Linked DNA regions of Homo sapiens. The protein of the gene in region 2 purifies or fractionates together with the protein of the main gene of each other region. This does not show direct contact. Each region holds a gene or a part of one and is shown on either strand. Other genes may lie near its edges. The genes, in order: VKORC1L1 and PGAP3.

What was found.
Region 1: the proteins of PGAP3 (region 2) and VKORC1L1 purify together in Homo sapiens (affinity purification with mass spectrometry; 2 studies listed by BioGRID and IntAct, with this or other methods). This does not show direct contact.

What each region holds. Positions count from the first base shown.
Region 1 is NC_000007.14:65,874,848-65,885,157, reverse strand, and holds part of VKORC1L1 (vitamin K epoxide reductase complex subunit 1-like protein 1), read right to left. Parts: intron 9,337-10,310; coding exon of another isoform or gene 9,189-9,336; intron 1-9,188. UniProt on the Homo sapiens protein: Involved in vitamin K metabolism. Can reduce inactive vitamin K 2,3-epoxide to active vitamin K, and may contribute to vitamin K-mediated protection against oxidative stress.
Region 2 is NC_000017.11:39,685,027-39,695,247, forward strand, and holds the start of PGAP3 (GPI-specific phospholipase A2-like PGAP3 isoform 1 precursor), read right to left. Parts: upstream 3,032-10,221; 5' UTR 2,989-3,031; coding exon 2,808-2,988; intron 994-2,807; coding exon 896-993; intron 1-895. UniProt on the Homo sapiens protein: Involved in the fatty acid remodeling steps of GPI-anchor maturation where the unsaturated acyl chain at sn-2 of inositol phosphate is replaced by a saturated stearoyl chain.

The DNA.
Region 1 (10,310 bases), on a different chromosome or scaffold from region 2:
TTGTAGACTCATGTAACACCCAGTAAACTACATGCTAGGAGATTTAAGAAGTCATGTTTTTCAGAACTAACAAATTACATATATTTACACAATATCAGAATGGGAAATGCCTGTCTGAACTTGAATCTACAGACAAAAATTACCAAGAAAAATCATTAAAATTATCATAGACTTGAAAAAACCTTTGTACTAGCATTCGTCTAAATCAATGTGAAAAATTCTAAAATTTATCCAGGCAGGAGAAGAAACACAGTTAATAAAAACATGAAAACCTCATTATCAAACAAGGTGATTATAAATTAAAAAATAAATTTTTTAAATGTGAAACCATTAAATCTTGCTGATGCTTGGGGAAAATGCAAATCAAAACAATAACATGACAATTTTCATATATCATATTGGCAAATATCTAAAAAATGAGAATGCCCAATTTGGCAAGGGCACAGGGCACCTAATATTCTATTCCATTACTGGTGGAATTTTTAACAACATGGGAAAATAGTGGTAATATTTTCTTTTTTTTGAGACAGTCTCACTCTGTCGCCCAGGCTGAAGTACAATGGCATGATCTCGGCTCACTGCAACTTCTGCCTCCCCAGTGCAAGCAATTCTCCTGCCTCAGCTTCCCAAGTAGCTGGGACCATCAGTGTGAATTACCATGCCTAGCTAATTTTTGTATTTTTAGTAGAGACGGGGTTTCACCACGTTGGCCAGGCTGGTCTCAAACTCCTGACCTCAGATGATCCACCTGCCTCAGCCTCCCAAAGTGCTGGGATTATGGCCACCGTGCCCTGCTGTGACATGTTAAGTGAGGAAAAGACAAATTAAACATACAGCAAGATCTAAACCATGTTCTAAAATAACAGTAACTATGTTTTATGAGTACCTTTATGCCAGACACCAGGACTATTTACATGTACTGGTACACTTCATAGTCACAATAATCCTATGAGTTAACACTATTACTACCCTCATTTTATGGAGGAAGAAGCTGAGACAAGAGATCAAGTGACAGAGCCAAGATTTCAACTCAGGTTGACTCTAGAGTCCCAGATCTTAACCACTGGCACAATGTATAGAAATTAATCAAACACTTTAAACACAGTGGAGTTGAGTATACTGTCTACTTTAATTCCTGATTTTGTCATAGATTTTCTACTACTTTACTTCTCAAATACGATGAGTTTTTAAAAGGATCGGTAATCACAAGACAGCCAACAGTGTCCCTGAAATTCCCCTAGTTAGAGATGCTAACTACAAAATAAAACTTATGAATCGTAATTCAATAGCTTTAAATATTGCACTACAAGAACATTTTTCTAAATGAAATTTTATGTGCATCTATAACATAAACAGATTAGGCTGGGTGTGGTGGCTTGCACCTGTAATCCCAGCACTTTGGGAGGCCGAGGCGGGCAGATTACGAGGTCAGGAGGTCGAGACCAGCCTGGCCAACATGGTGAAACCCCATCTCTATTAAAAATACAAAAATTAGCCGGGTTTGGTGGCAGGTGCCTGTAATCCCAGCTACTCGGGAGCCTGAGGCAGGAGAATCACTTGAAACTGGAAGGCAGAGGTTGCAGTGAGCCGAGAACCCGCCACTGCACTCCAGCCTGGGTGAAAGAGTGAAACTCCGTCTCAAAAAACAAACAAAAAAAGATTAAAGCAGTATTTTATTCTATCAATGTATTTTAAAGCTCAAATGTGGCCGGGTGTGGTGGCTCATGCCTGTAATTGCAGCACTTTGGGAGGCCAAGTGGGGGTGGATCATTTGAGGTCAGGAGTTCGAGACGAGCCTGACCAACATGGTGAAACCCCGTCTCTACTAAAAATATACACACACAAAAAATCAGCCAGGCATGGTGGCACATGCCTGTAGTTCCAGCTACTCAGGAGGCTGAAGCAGGAAAATCGCTTGAAGCTGGGAGGTGGAGGTTGCAGTGAGCCGAGATGGCACCACTGCATTCCAGCCTGGGTGACAGAGTGAGACTCCATCTCCAAAAAAAAAAAAAAAAAAAAAAGCTCAAATGTATAACATGTATAATGAGAACAATAAAATTCTTCTGACGAACACCAACTTTAAATTATGGATGATTGGGCAGTCTTATGTCAAATTTGTTTTGTTTTGATGGCATGGTATCAAGAAAAACCGGATTCACAAAGATGAATAGATGATAAAGCATGTTTTGCCAATGATAATGTTTTGTGTGTGTTTTTTAAATAGTACATTAACGCTATCTAAGGATTTAATTACACCTGTCCAGAAGTTTTAAAAGTAAAACATTTCTAAATTAATTATGTAATAGTGTTAAGGAATGAATACTTGGTAGTCGTAAACATTTTGGTAAAAAATAAAAACTTTACAATATGTACTAATCCTGATATATGCATTAGGCAGTCATGTTATTGCATAATGCAACAGTTCTAATAGTACTGAATGTGCTTATATGTTACATGAACAAACAAGCACTAGCCTAAAATTTCAAAATATCAACATAAAGCTACAGTCTTACTAATCAATAACATTTTTATCCTTTCTAACTCTGAGGAGGAAAAAAAAGGAAAGAAAAAATTTTAATTAAAAAATAAAATGGCATTTTAAAAGTTTCATTTCTATACACAAAGTGAGACACTCTATTCCAAGGATTATTGTCCTGGGTGTAAGCATTATAGATAATTTACATTTTCTTCCTTTTGCTTATTTTCTCTCAAATATTCTAAATGCACTTTTTTTTTTTTTTTGCTTTTTTACTTTTTATTTTATTTTATTTTATTTTTCAGACGGAGTTTCACTCTTGTTGCCCAGGCTGGAGTGCAATGGCGTGATCTTGGCTCACTGCAACCTCTGCCTCCTGGGTTCAAGCAACTCTCCTGTCTCAGCCTCCCGAGTAGCTGAGATTACAGGCATGCACCACCATGCCCGACTAATTTTGTATTTTTAGTAGAGATGGGGTTTCACCATGTTGGTCAGGCTGGTCTCCAACTCCCGACCTCAGGTGATCCACCCGCCTCAGTCTCCCAAAGTGCTGGGGTTACAGGCGTGAGCCACTACACCCAGTCTATTTTATTTTATTTTCTTGAGACAGAGTTTGCTCTGTCGCTCAGGCTGGAGTGCAGTGGCATGATCTCAGCTCACTGCAACCTCTGCCTCCCAGGTTCAAGTGATTCTCCTGCCTCAGCCTCCCAGGTAGCTCAGACTACAGGCACCCACTACCATGCCCGGCTAATTTTTGTATTTTTAGTAGAGATGGGGTTTCACCATGTTGGCCAAGCTGGTCTTGAACTCCTGACCTCACGTGATACATCCGCCTCAGCCTCCCAAAGTGCTGGGATTACAGGCATGAGCCACTGTGCCTGGCCAACTTTTTATTTTAAAATTACTATAATTATAAATCACAGGAATTTACAAAAAAGTACACAGGGAGGTCCCAAGTACCCTCGCCCAAATTCCTCCAATCCTGAGTTTATTCAGGTTTCACCAGTTTTGTATGCAAAATGGGACTTGAGTACGCTAGGATTTATATGCAGTATGTGTGTGTGTGGTTGTATGAAGTTTTTATCACATTTGCAGCTTTGTATAATCACACCTGAGACATTGAACTGTTCCATCCCTACACAGCTCCCTCATGCTACCACTTTATAACCACACCACCCCTCACCTCCCATTCCTAACTCCTAGCAACCACTAAATCTGTTCTCCATCTCTGCAGGTTTGTTATTTCAATAATGTTACATAAATGCAATCATACAGTATGTAATCTTTTAGGGTTCTCACTTGTTTTCACTCAGTATTAACTCTCTTGAGATAACCTGGCAGACAAATCAGTTGTCTCTAATATATTAAAATTTAGCATGAGATTCATTTGACTGTGTATAAACATTTATAATATTTTAAACTTAAAACATTAAAATGTGAATCAAAGGTGTATGAAATCCCTGTTTCATTGACAGAGAACAGGGATTCTGAGATACAAATTTTGAAAACTGGGAATCTAATACAAGCCTAGTACAATGTAGTACAGGTTGAATATTCCTTATCTGAAACACTTTGGAGCTGAAATGCTTTGGATTTGGGATTTTTTCAGATTTGGGAATATGTGCATTATATACCGGTTGAGCATCCCAAATCTGAAAGTTCAAAATCTGAAATGGTCCAAAATCCAAAACTTTGAGTGCCAATGACACTCAACGGAAATGCTCACAGGGGCATTTCAGATTTTGGATTTTCGGATTAGGGATCCTCAACCTGTACAATAACTTTATAGAAGAAAAGCTCAGGACTCAGTGCTATGTCTTATCAGTGTTTACAAGAGTACATGGTTTATAAGAACGCCTGGTTTTGCACTTGCTATGGGCAAGATCTAGATTCTGGTTCTTTCCCAACCCAGTTGAATATGTTACATTCAAATATGACCACTTGCTGTTCTTCTCAAATGACCACAGTTTGCTACCCTTTCAAGTTCTTCCTAATGATTGAGGAAATGAACTCCTCTTAAATTCCCAGATCTGTGTGGCGCTTTAGCTAGCACCACACCTCAGGTCCAATTCTCCTGTCTTTATATGCAGCAGGTCCACACGACAAGGCCTCCCTCCGAAAAAGCTACCCCAATCTAGGACAGATTCAAACAAACTCTTTTCCCTCCCCCTCCCTCCATGTGCCCAGAACCCCTTTCTCCTTCCTCCCTAGGCTAACCTGCTAAGTCTTCCGGACAGCTCACTACACCGTCTATCTGTTAGTTAACTGGGTGTGACAAACCACGTCCTCACACCTTAGAAGGCAAACACTCCAGGAACTTACTTCTGGAATACCAATACCTTCACAGTAATTTCCCTGCCTTTCCAAAGAGTGCTCTAAACAGGTAAAAGTGATACCACAAACTCTATATATTTTTGTCACATAGATACAGAAACTGGCACCATTGTTTGCATATTTAAAAAATCTGGTTGATATGGTTATCACTCTATCAATATTAGATCTAAATGGAATTTAAAGTAGTGGTAAAAGGCTGGGCGTGGTGGCTCACACCTGTAATCTCAGCACTTTGGGAGGCCAAGTGGGAAGACTGCTTGAGGCCAGGAGTTTGAGACCAACTCAGGCAACAAAGTGAGACCTCGTCACTATGAAAAATAGAAAAAATTAGCTAGGCATGGTGGGGTGTGCAACTGTAGACCCAGCTACTCAGGAAGCTGAGGTTGGAGGATCACTTGACCCAGGGAGGTTGAGGCTGCAGTGAGCCATGACTGCACCACTGCACTCAGCCTGGGGAGACAGAGTGAGACAATGTCTCAAAAAGTTAAAGAAGAAAGAAAAGAAAGGAAAGAAAAAAAAAGGAAAGGAAAGAAAAAGAAAAGGAAAGAAGGAAGCAAGGAACGAAGGAGGAAGGAAGAAGGAAAAATAAAGAAAAGGAAGGAAGGAAGGAAAAAGAAAGAAAAGAAGGAAGGAAAAGAAAGAGAGAAAAGAAAGGAAAGGAAGAAGGAGGGTGGGAGGGAAAGGAAGAAAGGAAGACGAAAGAGTAGTGGTAAAGAGCTTGGACTCTTGAGCCAGACTGCCTGGGTTAGAATCAGGCCTCTGCCACTGTACTACCTGGATCAAGTGTTAGTCTGCGTTGCTCAGTTTTCTCATGTGTAAAATGGTGATAAAAGCTACCTGCCTCATGGGACTCTTGAGAGACTTCAATAATGTATGCAAAACATTTAGAACACTGCCTAGCACATAGTAAGCATTATCTGTAAGTATTAACATTTATCTCTACTACAGTCCAGATTCACTTCCTTGTGATATTTCTCTATTCCTCTTGGACTCTTTTCAGTTCAACCTGCTTCTGAAATTTCCATACCAAGAAACAATGATAATGTTAAGAATTTTATTTCTGAAATTTATCTTGGTTAGTCAAAACTACTAGAACAAATTCTCTTTTACGTACTAGCAGTTATTAACATTTCACTAAATATGAACATAAGCATTTAAAGTATGGGAGCAATGGAACGAATGCCAAGCAAAAAGCAGGCTATCAATAAGGATGCATACGTGATACTTCCATGTTAAAAAAAGGGAGGAATCATATGGTCACGTGGATGTTTGTCTATGTGTCAAACGGCTCTGAAAAGTTTCACAGCGGTCTACTGAGCGGGAGAACTGTCTGGTGGAAGGGATATGAAGGAGACTTTTCACTGTACATGCTTTGTTATCTTTCAAATCCGAAGCAGCGAATGCCTTACCTAGACAAGAATTTAATTTTTCTTTTTTTTTGAGACAGAGTCTCACTCTGTCACCCAGTCTGGAGTGCAGTGGCACGACCTCAGCTCACCACAACCTCCACCTCCCGGGTTCAAGTGATTCTCCTGCCTCAGCCCCTCTCAAGTAGCTGGGACTACAGGCGTGTGCCACCATGTCTGGCTAATTTTTTTTGTATTTTTAGTAGAGACGGGGTTTCACCATGTTAGCCAGGATGGTCTTGATCTCCCGACCTCGTGATCCGCCCACCTCGGCCTCCCAAAGTGCTGAGATTACAGGCGTGAGCCACTGCGTCCAGCCAAGAATTTAATTTTTAAAATGGGGGTGCAAAGGGGACTTTAAATAAGTACTCTGGAAGCCAGGTGTCAAGTCTCAATTTGCTACTACCTGTGCTATCTTGGGCAAGTCACTTAACCTCTGAGTCTCAGACAAAGCAAAGAGCAGTAAATACTTCTAGGTTCTTTTTTTTTTTTGTAAGACAGAGTTTCCCTCTTATTGCCCAGGCAGGAGGGCAGTGGCACAATCTCGGCTTACTGCTACCTCCACCTCCCGGGTTCAAGTGATTCTCCTGCCTCAGCCTCCCGAGTAGCTGGAATTACAGGTGCCCACCACCATGCCCGGCTAATTTTTTGTATTTTTAGTAGACAAGGGGTTTCACCATATTGGCCAGGCTGGTCTCAAACTCCTGAACTCAGGTGATCCACCCACCTCAGCCTCCCAAAGTGCTGGGATTACAGGCGTGAACCACTATGCCCAGCCCTAGGTTCTATTCTAATTCTAAAAGTTTTATTATCTCAATGGGGTAGTAAATAGATGGTACTTTTTTTTTAAGATATGGGAGAGGTAGTAATCCGACATTTTGTAAAATAAGGCAACTTTTTTATGGACTTGATTTTCAAATGCAGTGGACCCTTGAACAACACGGGTTTAAGCTGTGTGTGCTCACTTATACGTGGATCTTTTTCAACCAAATGCAGACCGAAACCTGCATATATGGAGGCCCAAATTTTCACATTCAGGTTCTGCAGGGCCCACAGTGGGGACTTGAGTATGCCAGGATCTCAGTAAAAACAGGGGTCCTGAAACCAATCCCCTATGGTATATGTTCTATACATAGACCATAGGACAACCAGACTATTTTTACAGTTTTAAGAAACATAGATTTGTCAAGCCTATTAACCTTTCCAGATCATTTGTACTATTCTTACATAGAAACCCTTCTTAGAGGGGGTCTTATATATAGAAAATACCTACATAGAATATTCTGCATATTACAGCTGGACACGGTGGCTGATGCCTATAATCTCAGCACTTTCGGAGGCTGAGGCAGGCAGATCACCTGAGGTCAGGAGTTTAAGACCAGCCTGGCCAACATGGCAAGACCCTGTCTCTACTAAAAATACAAAAATTAGCCGGGCATGGTGGTGGGCACCTGTAATCCCAGCTCCTTGGGAGGCTGAGGTAGGAGAATCGCTTGAACCCGGGAGGTGGAGGTTGCAGTGAGCTGAGATCATGCCACTGCACTCCAGTCCGGGTGACAGAGCAGCGAGACTCCATCAAAAAAAAAAAAAAGAATATTCTGCATTAGTTTCTCTTGCACAACTTCAAAATTGTTTTAAATGAACACATCTTTATACTATGCTATAAAGTCAGCAATAAACTACATTAAAACAATTAATGTTTAAACATATAAACAAGTATGTACAAGAAACTTATACTTAAAGGCATTTATTATCAAACACTGGAAAAAAAAGAACATCTCCAATCAATGGTAACAGCTATAACTGAGGACAGGCTTTATTTCAGGAACATACATGTATCACTTTTCATCGTAACACTAATCTGGCAAAGTAGGTTTTTTTGTTTTTCTTTTTTTGAGACAGGGTCTCTCTCTACCACCCAGGCTGGAGTGCAGTGGCACCATCATGGCTCACTGCAGACCTCAGCCTCTCAGGCTCAAGTGATCCTCACACCTCAGCCTCCCAAGAAGCTGGAAATACAGGCATGCGCCACCATGCCCGGTTAACGTTTGTATTTTTTGTAAAGACACGGTTTTGCCCTGTTGCCCAGGCTGGTCTGAAACTCCTGAGCTCAAGAGGTCTGCCAGGTGTCAGCGTCCCAAACTGCTGGGATTACAGGTGTGAGCCACTGCACCAGGCCCTAAGTAGGTGTTAAAAGCCCTATTTAACATAAGAAACTGAGGCACCATGAAGATAAGGCCACAAGCCTAAGAACTGGGAGAGGTGGAAGCCCACCCAGATCCCTTAGATTTGAGCTCAGTGTACCAAACCAAGGGGGCAGGGACTGCTAACTGAATGTTAGCTGGCAGGCTGGTGCAGGTTTGCAGCAGAGTTTTCACCGATTTATGGGAAAATGGGAAAAAGTAAGGACACGAAAGTAAACTTTTTTTTTTTTTTTTTAAAGACAGAGTCTCGTTCTGTCACACAGGCTGGAGTGCAATGGCGCGATCTTGGCTTACTGCAACCTCTGCATCCCAGGTTCAAGTGATTCTCCTGCCTCAGCCTCCCGAGTAGCTGGGATTACAGGTGCATGCTACCACGCCCAGCTTGTTTTGTATTTTTAGTAGAGACGGGGTTTCAGCATGTTGGCCAGGCTGGTCTGAAAGTAAACTTTTCCATATAGCTAAATGATTCCATTTAAAAATATTTTATTCTGAGAGATTCTGTTCTTTCAAATTGTTTGAATGGAAATATCCTTTTGTTAAATGAAATGATGGTGACAGGAGATAGTGGTGTGTTATTGTTTTTACTGGCTGTACATGGTAGAATTGAAAAATCAGCATTTCTATTGTAGCCTACTAATTTCGGTGAAATATTTCTTTAGAAATATAAAATCTGGAACTTTCCATCATTATGCCTCCCCAAAATAATAGAGGACTTTACACACAGATAACACCTGCCTCTCAAGATTCTCTCATTAATCTCTACCTTACCGTGTTTGGATTAAGACACAGGGCTTGCGAAATGAGAATAAAGTGAGTTTGAGCAATCCAAAACCACGTGCTGACTCTGGATCCTGGAAGATGATTTTCTTCAGAATCTTTGTCTGTTAACTTTCCTCTGGGCTCAAACTTTCTTTTCCTAAAAGAGTCACATATTTGAGTACTACTGCTACATGGCAATCACCACTCAAAAAAAACTAACTTGAGGTGTCCAATAATCAGCTTTCATTTAAAGTCTGTTTCAGGCTAGGCGCGGTGGCTCACGTCTGTAATCCCAGCACTTTGGGAGGCCGAGGAGGGCGGATCACGAGGTCAGGAGATCGAGACCATCCTGGCTAACATGGTGAAACCCCGTCTCTACCAAAAATACAAAAAATTAGCAGGGCGTTGTGGCGGGCGCCTGTAGTCCCAGCTACTCAGGAGGCTGAGGCAGGAGAATGGAGTGAACCCGGGAGGTGGAGGTTGCAGTGAGTCGAGATCGCACCACTGCACTCCAGCCTGTGTGACAGAGCAAGACTCCGTCTCAGAAAAAAAAAGAAAAGTGTCTTTCAGCTTGACAAAATAAAAACTTTCAATGATGTTTTGTCTACACACTTCCAAAAGAAAATGAGTCTATATATGTACATATATGTGATTATATATGTATATATACATATGTGATTTTGATCAGCCTGCATATAAACTACCTGCAAAACAAGTTGATTTGTAAATTCATTTATTAAATGGGTAGTTTATAAGCTACTTGATTTTTGCAAGTAGTTTATAAACAGGCTGATCAAATTGAACAAATTTCTTAATTTCACTGTATACATGGCAAATAAGTTATCTACTCTTCTTATTAGCAAATCTTATTTTTACCTACCCTCCTTTGGCAAGCATCTAAGTTAAACTATTTTATGTCCACAGCTACACAATGAAACATCACTTTCAGTCACAACATATTAAATTCACATTTAAAACTATAAAGAGATCCAGTTACCTTTAGTCTTACATGTACTTATACATACTTTTAATATACTACTTGATGTTTTATGCACAAACATGCAGCTCTTGCAGGATATAACTATGAGAATATTTAGAGTGTATGCTAAATACACTTTTTTAAAGACAAGT
Region 2 (10,221 bases):
GTGGAAACAGCACAGAGTTGCCATCCAGAAGACACAGGTCCCAACCCCTCCTCTACCACTGACCACGGTCCTTTGAGCCTCAGCTTACTCTGTGAAAAACTGGGGTGAATACTTCCTGCCAACCTCAACAGGCCAGAATGAGATAATACTGGATTGAAACGTACCAGCAGGCCAGGCGCGGTGGCTCACGCCTGTAATCCCAGCACTTTGGGAAGCTGAGGCGAGAGGGTCACAAGGTCAGGAGATTGAGACCATCCTGGCTAACATGGTGAAACCCCATCTCTACTTAAAAAAAAAAAAAAAAAAATACAAAAAATTAGCTGGGTGTGGTGGCACACACCTGTAGTCCCAGCTACTTGGGAGGCTCAGGCATGAGAATTGCTTGAACCTGGGAGGTAGAGGTTGCAGTGAGCCAAGATCATGCCACTGCACTCCAGCCTGGGCGACAGAGGGAGACTCCATCTCAAAAAAAAAAACAAAAAACAAAAAACAAAAGAAAGAAAGGTACCAGCAAACTGTGCCTCGCTAGACAAGCTGAAGCATATTACTGTGAATCCAGACCCCTACTGGAGAAGCAACAGGAAACAAGCCACAGTAGGTAAGGGAATTTGTCCCTGCAGTAAGGTGGGCATCTCAACCACTCTAAGAGGCCCAGCACCACTCTCTGGGGAGACTCCAAAGCCTTCCAGATATTGCTACTCCAAATCCAGAGGCAGGACACATGGGTCCTATCCAATTCTATGGAAACCAGCAGATTTTGGGGAGAACAGGTAGCTGCCCCAAACACACACGCATTACCCCATGCCTCAGACTGCTTGGACAGTGTGGTCCAACCAGGGGGTATATTACTCCTACCACGCTACTACCATATGCCTACCCTGACCCTCCAACTCACCTTGCCATGGAACTGAGGCACTTTGTGACCTTCCTGGAGGTAGAGCCCAACGGTGACCCACATACACTCATACTTACAGTCGTCCCGACAGGTCCAGCCTGAAACAGACAAATGTGGCCTGGTGAACTCCCCAGCACAGAGAGGAAAGAGAGAGCATGAATGGGGTCCAAGCGCAAATGTAGGCCAAGAGGGCCTGTAAGTTGGAGAGAACCAGGAGAAATCTCAAAATTCTAGCTTCCCCTTTGAATGAATGAGAGATGATGAGATGTACACATAGGGGAAGGTGTATGTACGTATGTATGCATATTTTAGTGAGCAATTAGAGATATTCGTCTTTTTTTTGTTTGTTTTTTTGAGACAGTTTTGTTTTTGTTGCCCAGGCTGGAGTGCAATGGTGCGATCTCGGTTCACTGCAACCTCCGCCTCCTGGGTTCAAGCGATTCTCCTGCCTCAGGCTCCCGAGTAGCTGGGATTACAGGCATGCACCACCACACCCAACTAATTTTGTATTTTTAGTAGAGATGGGGTTTCTCCATGTTGGTCAGGGTGGTCTTGAACTCCCAACCTCAGGTTATCTGCCTGCCTCTGCCACCTAAAGTGCGGGGATTGCAGGCACGAGCCACCGCACCCGGCATTTTTTTTTTTTTTTTTTTTTTGAGACAGGGTCTCGCTCTTTCATCCAGGCTGGAGTGCAGTGGGGAGAGCATGGCTCACCACAGCCTTGACCTCCTGGGCTCAAACGATCCTCCCACCTCAGCCTCCCAAGTAGCGAGACCACAATGTCTGGCTAATTCTTTTATTTTTTGTAGAGAAGGCATCTTGTCATGTTGCCTAGGCTAGTCTTGAACTCCAGGGCTCAGATGATCTTTCTACCTTGGCAGACATTTCCTCTCCTTTTGCTCAAGTCCATCAAGATGTTGGCATCTGATGAACTCATCTATGGAAACCTGGGTTTATATTTGTCCTTCCTGAATATAGGATTTGCTCTTACTCTCCTGGAAGGAGTTCTTGCTATCTTACTCCCTTCCTATGAAAATGAAGCCCAAATTCTTCAACCTGACTTTTGAGGCTCCAAATTGCCTTTCCAACCGTATTGGTCACTACTCCTGTTCATGTACCCTGCTCCCTGAGTAAATAAAGCTCCTGGATGTGCCCACATCTGCCCAGGGCATCCATTCTCTCTGTTCCCTCTGTCTGGAATGCAAAGTGGTATAATAGTAAAGAGGACAAGCTTGTGGTCAAACAGGCCAGAACTGGAAACTCCACTTTACTACATACTGGCTGTGTGACCTTGGGCAGGGCATTTAATCTCTCTAATCCCCATCTGTAAAACTGGGATTAGAGAAACTATCTCAAAGGGTGTGATAAAAATTACTTGACATATTGTGACACCTGTCACACAGTGAGTGCTCAATACGTTGGTTCTTTGCCCACTATGGTCCAAATCGAATGTACCAGTCCAAAGTCCCTCCTTCAAACAAAACGTTCCAAGATGATCCCTGCCCCCACGTCTTCAAAGCCGGAACTGACACCTTCCTATCCCAAATGCTTCCTAATCAAAGAGTCTTTCAGGGGCTCAAATCATTCTCTGCCTTGCACTTGAAAAGGCTCATGTCCCCGTGGGGACTGTGAGTCCCAATGGGCGGGACCCTGGTCTGATTTCTGTGCCATTCCTAGACATTGTGGCCCGAATGTATTTAATAAATACCCTTTTGACTGAACAAATAAGTAAATGAAAGCTTCTGGGAAAGTAAGAGAGGCTGGTAAGGCTCTCATCACCTTAGGGGCTTCACTCACATTCATAAGAGACCTCGTGGGGAAACTAAGGTTCAGGGATTGCAGAGGCGTATTGGGGGCGCAGGGGGCGGGAGCAAGACAAATGGGCGGGGCTTACCGTGGGGGTGGGGCTTACCTGCTAGACTCATGTAGATTGGCTGGCGGGAGCGGAAGTGATTCAGAGCGCCCCCAGAGCAGTTCTGCTCTTCGCACTGCAGTACGCAGTCGCGGTACACCGGCTCACGGTCGCCCTGGGAGCCGCTCGCCAGCGCCGCTGCCCCAGCTAGCAGGACCAACCGCGCCGCCAGGCCGGCCATCCTTTCTCCCTGGCTCGCCGCCGGGGGAGGAGCTTAGGAGTATGAAGCTTCCACTTCCGGAGTAACCGGAAGTTCCTGTGTTCTTTATTCTACTCTCCGCTGAAGTCCACACAGTTTAAATTAAAGTTCCCGGATTTTTGTGGGCGCCTGCCCCGCCCCTCGTCCCCCTGCTGTGTCCATATATCGAGGCGATAGGGTTAAGGGAAGGCGGACGCCTGATGGGTTAATGAGCAAACTGAAGTGTTTTCCATGATCTTTTTTGAGGTAGGGCTGTTTACTGTCACCACCCCTGTCGGATTTTACTTCCTAAACGTACCTGTAACTATCCACTTCTCTCCATCTCTTCTGGCACCACCCTGGTTAAAGACACCATCATGTGTCGCCAAGACAGCCGCAGTAGCTTCTTAATGGCTCTCCCTGCCTCTACTTTTGCCTCTTCCAACCTGCGCTCCATTTTGAAAAATTAAAATTTGCCCATATCACTTTTTTTTTCTTAAAATTATTTACTGGCTCCCAATTACCTTGGGTAAAATACAGTCTCCACAAACCCTGCCTGATTTGGCCCCTGTCCACTGGTCTCCCTCACTCCCTTGCTCCAGACCCGCTTCAGAGGGCTATGTCCCTCAAGCTTCCTGACTGCCTGGCCTGGTCTGAATCACTCACTCTTCTTTTTTCTTCTAGTCGCAATTGAAGTACCACCTCCCGAGGGTGATTGCTTCCCCATGCGGGGTAGAACCTTTGCTGTCCTGTTCACCACTCTACCTCCAGCACAGAATTTGGCTTATGGTAGGCGCTAACTGCGTTTGTTTGTTCTTCTGTTTAATGAATGAACAGCATACATCAACATAAGAACTTGACAAATCCAGGGCTGTAAAATCATCAGTATGGTTCTGCACTGAGATCGGAGAGAAGTAATATTTCTAGGAAAATTAGGAACCCTGGGAACAGGACGCTTGCTTTAGTATCCTCTCCCTGCTCACCTCCCCTGCACTCCCATCAGCACCGACCCACACCCAATCTCATAGAAGCCTTGTAGCTAAGGATCACCCTTTCTCCTCCCCCACTCTCCTCACCCCTTGTCAACTTTTCTTTTTCGTCCTGGGGGTTGGAATGAGTAAGAAGTAGCCTGGGATTCCATTCACTCACTTAACAAACATTTCTGAGTCCTTAGCTCTAGCACCTTGCTAAGCAAGGCAAAATCTCCAGGAGGCACCATTCACATTGCATTTTCTGTGAATGGTGCTCTGGGGAGCAGCATTCACATTGCCTTTTCTGTGAATGGCAAATTCTTCCAGTTAAATATAACATGAATAGTGTCCCCTGGAGTTGACCACCCAACTGATACTGACTGAGAAGCTGAAATGAACAAAACAACCCCTTAGCCCTCCAGGAGCTGACCGGAAATCCAGTGCTAATACTACTTTGCATCTTACAGATTAGTTCTTTTACAATACTGTTTTTTTTTCTTTTTTCATTTCATTTTGTCCTTTCTGTGACTCTGGGATGAGTCTTTTTATGAGGATCCTCATATAAAGATGGACATTTAGGATTAAAGAGGATGAAATCCTGACAAAATAGGGAGTCTCCCCTTTAGAAAATTCCTAAGTAAGGCTGGGGGTGGTGGCTCACGCCTGTAATCCCAGCACTTTGGGAGGCCGAGGCGGACGGATCACCTGAGGTTAGGAGTTTGAGACCAGCCTGACCAACATGGAGAAACCCCATCTCTACTAAAAATACAAAATTAGTTGGGTGTGGTGGTGCATGCCTGTAATCCCAGCTACTCAGGAGGCTGAGGCAGGAGAATCGCTTGAACCCAGGGAGGCAGAGGTTGTGGTGAGCCAAGATTGCGCCATCGCACTCCAGCCTGGGCAACAAGAGCGAAACTCAAAAAAAAAAAAAAAAAGAAAAAGAAAATTCCAATTTTGAAGGCCTCATCCTATATTATGTCAAACATACTGAAATGCAGTAACGCCCCACATTAAATAAGATTTATAAATAACTATACATATATATAATTCAATCTAATTGCTGTTAATAGTTGACATATTGCTACATTTATATACATTTAGTTAAAAAAAATTTTTTTTCCCAGACAGCCTCTCACTCTTTCACCTAGACTGAAGTGCAGTGGCATGATCACGACTCACTGCAACCTCAACCTCCCAGACTCAAGTGATCCTTCCATCTCAGCCTCCTGAGTAGCTGGGACTGCAGCATGCGCCACTATGCCCTGCTAATTTTTTTAATTTTTTGTAGAGACACGGTCTTGCTATGTTGCCTAGACTGGTCTCCAATTCCTGGGCTCGAGTGATCCTCCCGCCTCAACCTCCCAAAGTGCTGGGATTACGGGCGTGAGCCATGCCACACGGCCATAAAATATTAATTTTCGCAGCTTTCTTATATTTTAGAACTAACAATGGAAATTTGTTCGGGTCTAAAGTATTTCAGAGGTCCTTGAAAACCCATGCCTACATACCTGATGGAAAAAGCAATCCTAGGTTAATGGTGGAAGTGGGAGTAGAGACTTCTGTTCTGTTGACTTCTTGGAAGATGGGGTACTGTCTCTCTGGGACAGCTCTTGAGAATTTCCCTGCCAGCACAGCCCCAGATAACAATCTCTAGATGGCGATTACCTGGCCTCTCTTCCCAACTTTCTAGCCTGGAGCCCCTAGTTCTCCCCTGAGCCTCCTTAGCTTGTCCTTCTTCCTAACTTGTATTTGGCTTCAGATGTGATCCACAGTCTGAAAAGTCACTAATTCATTCCTTCAACTCAGGCTTATTGAGTCCTCCTGTGTATCAGCCATTGTACTCATGGGGGAAAAAAAAGACAAAGCATATGTTAATAGTAGAGTGTGCTGGACAGGCACAGTGGCTCATGCCTGTAATCCCAGCACTTTGGGAGGGCGAGGCAGGTGGATCATCTGAGGTCAGGAGTTCGAGACCAGCCTGACCTAACATGGAGAAACTCCTGAGATCGTGCCATTGCACTCCAGCCTGGGCAACAAGAGCAAAACTCCGTTTCAAAAAAAAAAAAAAAAGTATAGTGTGCTAAAGGCTCAACGGCAAGCTGACCATGTTCTTAGATCAAAATTGGTAGAGAGTCTACAATGTGGGTTCCTTATTCATCAAATGTTTATTAAGTTTACCATGTGCAAGTCTCTGGGAACAGAGTGATGAACAAGGCACTGTACTTTTCATGGTCAGAGGAGGGAAACAGGCCATAAACAAGTGTCAAACAAAAGACTGAAGCCAGGTGCGGTGGCTCACATCTGTAATCCCAGCACTGTGGGAGGCCAAGGCAGGCGGATCATGAGATCAGGAGATCGAGACCATCCTAGCCAACATGGTGAAACCCCATCTCTACTAAAAATACAAAAAAATTAGCTGGGCATGGTGGCACGTGCCTGTAATCCCAGCTACTCCGGAAGCTGAGGCAGGAGAATTGCTTGAACCAGGGAGTTGGAGGTTGCAGTGAGCCTGGATTATGCCACTGCACTCCAGCCTGGTGACAGAGCGAGACTCCATCTACATTAAAAAAAAAAATATATATATATATATATACACACACACACACACACACACACACATACCCTCTAACCCAGGAATTTCACTCCTAGGTATACCTACATAAGCTCCAGTATACCTAAACAAGTGCAAATTTGTTTAAGTACAGTTATTTGTGGTAGCATTAGTCATTGTTTTCAATAGCAAGAAGAAAAAGGAAACAACTAAATGTCCATCAATAGGGAATGAATTATATTAATGGAGGGAGAGCCATACAATGGAAGGCTGAACAGAAATTAATAGGAATGGGGCAGATTTGTAATGTACTAGCATGGTAAAACCTTCATGATAGATATAGATATAGATATAGATATAGATATAGATATATATACATATACATATACATATACATATACATATATATATATATATATATATATCTCTTGTGTCTCAGCCTCCCGAGTAGCTGGGATTACAGGTGTGTGCCACCACATCCGGCTAATTTTTGTATTTTTTAGTAGAGACAGGGCTTCACCATGTTGGTAAGGCTGTCTTGAACTCCCGACCTCAGGTGATCCACCTGTCTCAGCCTCCCAAAGTGCTGGGATTATAGGCATGAGCCATCACACCTGGCCAAATATTTTTGATAAGTATCAAGTGCACAGTGCAGAACAAAATATGTGTGTGTGTATGCATGTGTATGTACACCTATACACTTATATACAGTACCCCATGTGAAGAAAAATAAGGGTACGTGTTATGCGCGTAGTATTATGGTTGTTATTTTTGAGAATATATCTAGAAAGATAAAAAAGAAAGTGGAAATAGTTCTTGCCTCTGGTGGGAAGTGGGACTATGTGCCTGATCAATAGGGAAGTAAGGAACACTTTTTTTTTTTTTTTTTAAACGGAGTTTTTGCTCTTGTTACCCAGGTTGGAGTGCAATGGCGCGATCTTAGCTCACTGCAACCTCTGCCTCCCAGGTTCAAGCGATTCTGCTGCCTCAGCCTCCTGAGTAGCTGGGATTATAGGCATGCGCCTCCACGCCTGGCTAATTTTGTATTTTTAGTAAAGATGGGGTTTCTCCATGTTGGTCAGGCTGGTCTTGAACTCCCCACCTCAGGTGATCCGTCCGCCTCAGCCTCCCAAAGTGCTAGGATTACAGGCGTGAGCCACCGTGCCTGGCCAGGAACGCTTTTTATTTTTGTACCTTTAAAAGTGTGTACCGTCTGTGTATATAATCAGTTAAAAACAAAGAAAAGCTGAGTGTGGTGGCTCATGCCTGTAATCCCAGCCCTTAAGGAGGCCGAGGCCGGCGGCAGATCACCTGAGGTCAGGAGTTCAAGACCGGCCTGACCAAAACGGTGAAAACTCATCTCTACAAAAACATAAAAATTAGCCAGGCATGATGGCAAGTGCCTGTAATCCCAGCTGGTTGGGAGGCTGAGGTGGGAGACTTGCTTGAACCTAGGAGGCAGAGATTGCAGTGAGCCAAGACTGTACCACTGCACTCCAGCCTGGGCAACAGAGCAAGTCTCTGTCTCAAAACAAAAACAAAAACACAAAGAAAAAATGTAAAACAATTTCATGCAGTAGCAAGCATCGAGTTAAATACAGTTGACCCTTGAACAACACAGGTTTGAATTGCACGGGTCCATTTATACTCACATTTCTTCCACCTCTGCCACCCCCAAAATAGCAAGACCAACCCCATCTCTTTTCCTTTCTCTTCCCCCTCCTCAGCCTACTCAATGTGAAGATGATGAGGATGAAAACCTTTGTGATGATCCACTTCCACTTAATGAATGGTAAATATGTTTTTTCTTACTTATGATTTTCTTAGTAGCATTTTCTTTTCTCTAGCTTCCTTTATTGTAAAAATACAGTATATAACACATATCACATACAAAATGTGTGTAAATGGACTGTTTGCTATTGATAAGTATTCTGGTAAACAGTAGACTATTAGTTTTTTTTGTTTTGTGACAAGGTCTCCCTCTGTCGCCCAGCCTGGAATGCCGTGGTGTGATCATGGCTCACTGCAGCCAAAAACTTCTGGGCTAAAGCAATCCTCTACTAAAAATACAAAAATTAGCCAGGCATGGTGGTGCGCTTCTGTAATCCCAGCTACTCAGGAGGCTGAGGCAGGAGAATTGCTTGAACCCGGGAGGCAGAGGTTGCAGTGAGCTGAGATTGCACCGTTGCATTCCAGCCTGGACAACAGAGCGAGACTCCATCTCGAAAATAAAATAATAATAATAATAATAATAATAATAATAATAATAATAGGGCTGGGTGTGGTGGCTCATGCCTGTAATCCCAGCACTTTGGGAGGCCAAGGTGGACAGATCACCTGAGGTCAGGAGTCTCAATTAAAAAATAAATAGGCCGGGCACAGTGGCTCATGCCCATAATCCCAGCACTTTGGGAGGCCGAGGTGGGCAGATCACCTGAGGTCAGGAGTTTGAGACCAGCCTGGCCAACACGGAGAAACGCTGCCTCTATCAAAAATACAAAAATTAGCTGGATGTGGTGGTGCATGCTATAATCCCAGTAATACCAGCTACTCGGAAGGCTGAGGCAGGAGAATCACTCGAATCCGGGACACGGAGGTTGCAGTGAGCCGACATCATGCCACTGCGCTCCAGCCTGGGTGACAGTGAGACTCTGTCTCAGAAAAAAAAAAAAAAAAAAAAAAAAAAAAAAAAAATATATATATATATATATATATATATATATATATATATATATGTGTGTATATATATATATATACACATATATATGTGTATATATATATACACACACACATATATATGTGTATATATAAAATAAAATAAATAATAATAAAACATTTACTTTGGCTGCTGTTGCTGCGGGGAGAATTGCAGGGTGTCAAAAGTAGCACTGGTGGAGGGGTAGTGATCAAAGTCTGGTGCTTTAGCCCAAAGGAGAAATGATAGAGACTCAGACTAGCTGGTGATGGAGGTAGAATAAGCATAAATGTATCAAAAAGAGGAGTTGATAGATCTTAAAGAATGATTGGATTTGAAGGGCAAAGGAAGAGAAGAATCAACCAGGTGGGTTCAGTGAATGAAACCATCAGAAACGAATTGTCCCCTGAAATCAAGACTTTGTGATTGCCATAGTTGTATGCTTCTCAAAGGTTCCTCGTCTCCTCTTCCTTGGACCAAAAGTCAGAGGCAAGAATGCCCTCATTCATACCCCAGTGGTCTATACCTCCAGCAGCAAGTCGAGTGAGCAAGTGATGTCCTGAAAGGCCCAGTGGATCAGTGGAATGAAGCGGGCAGGAAGACTTAGTGCTCCTGAAACAAGGAATCCAGAATCCAGGAGAAGGATGGCTCAGTGGGGCTTTCAAGGGACAAGTATGGGGGTTGAAGGGGTCACTGTCCCTATACCAAATCCGAAAATATTGTGACCAGGAACCATTCTGTCCAACTCTTCTATTTCAGGTGGCAAAGCAAAGCTATATTCAAGACCACATGCAAAGCTACTCCCTGAGCAAAGAGTCACAGATAAAACGGGGGCACCAGTAGAATGGCCAGGACAAACGCAGTGCAGCACAGAGACTCAGACCCTGGCAGCCATGCCTGCGCAGGCAGTGATGAGAGTGACATGTACTGTTGTGGACATGCACAAAAGTGAGGTGAGTCGCAGGACAGAAGAGTGCTTTTTGTTTCAGCAGAGCAGCCTGGGGAGAGATAAAAGCTAC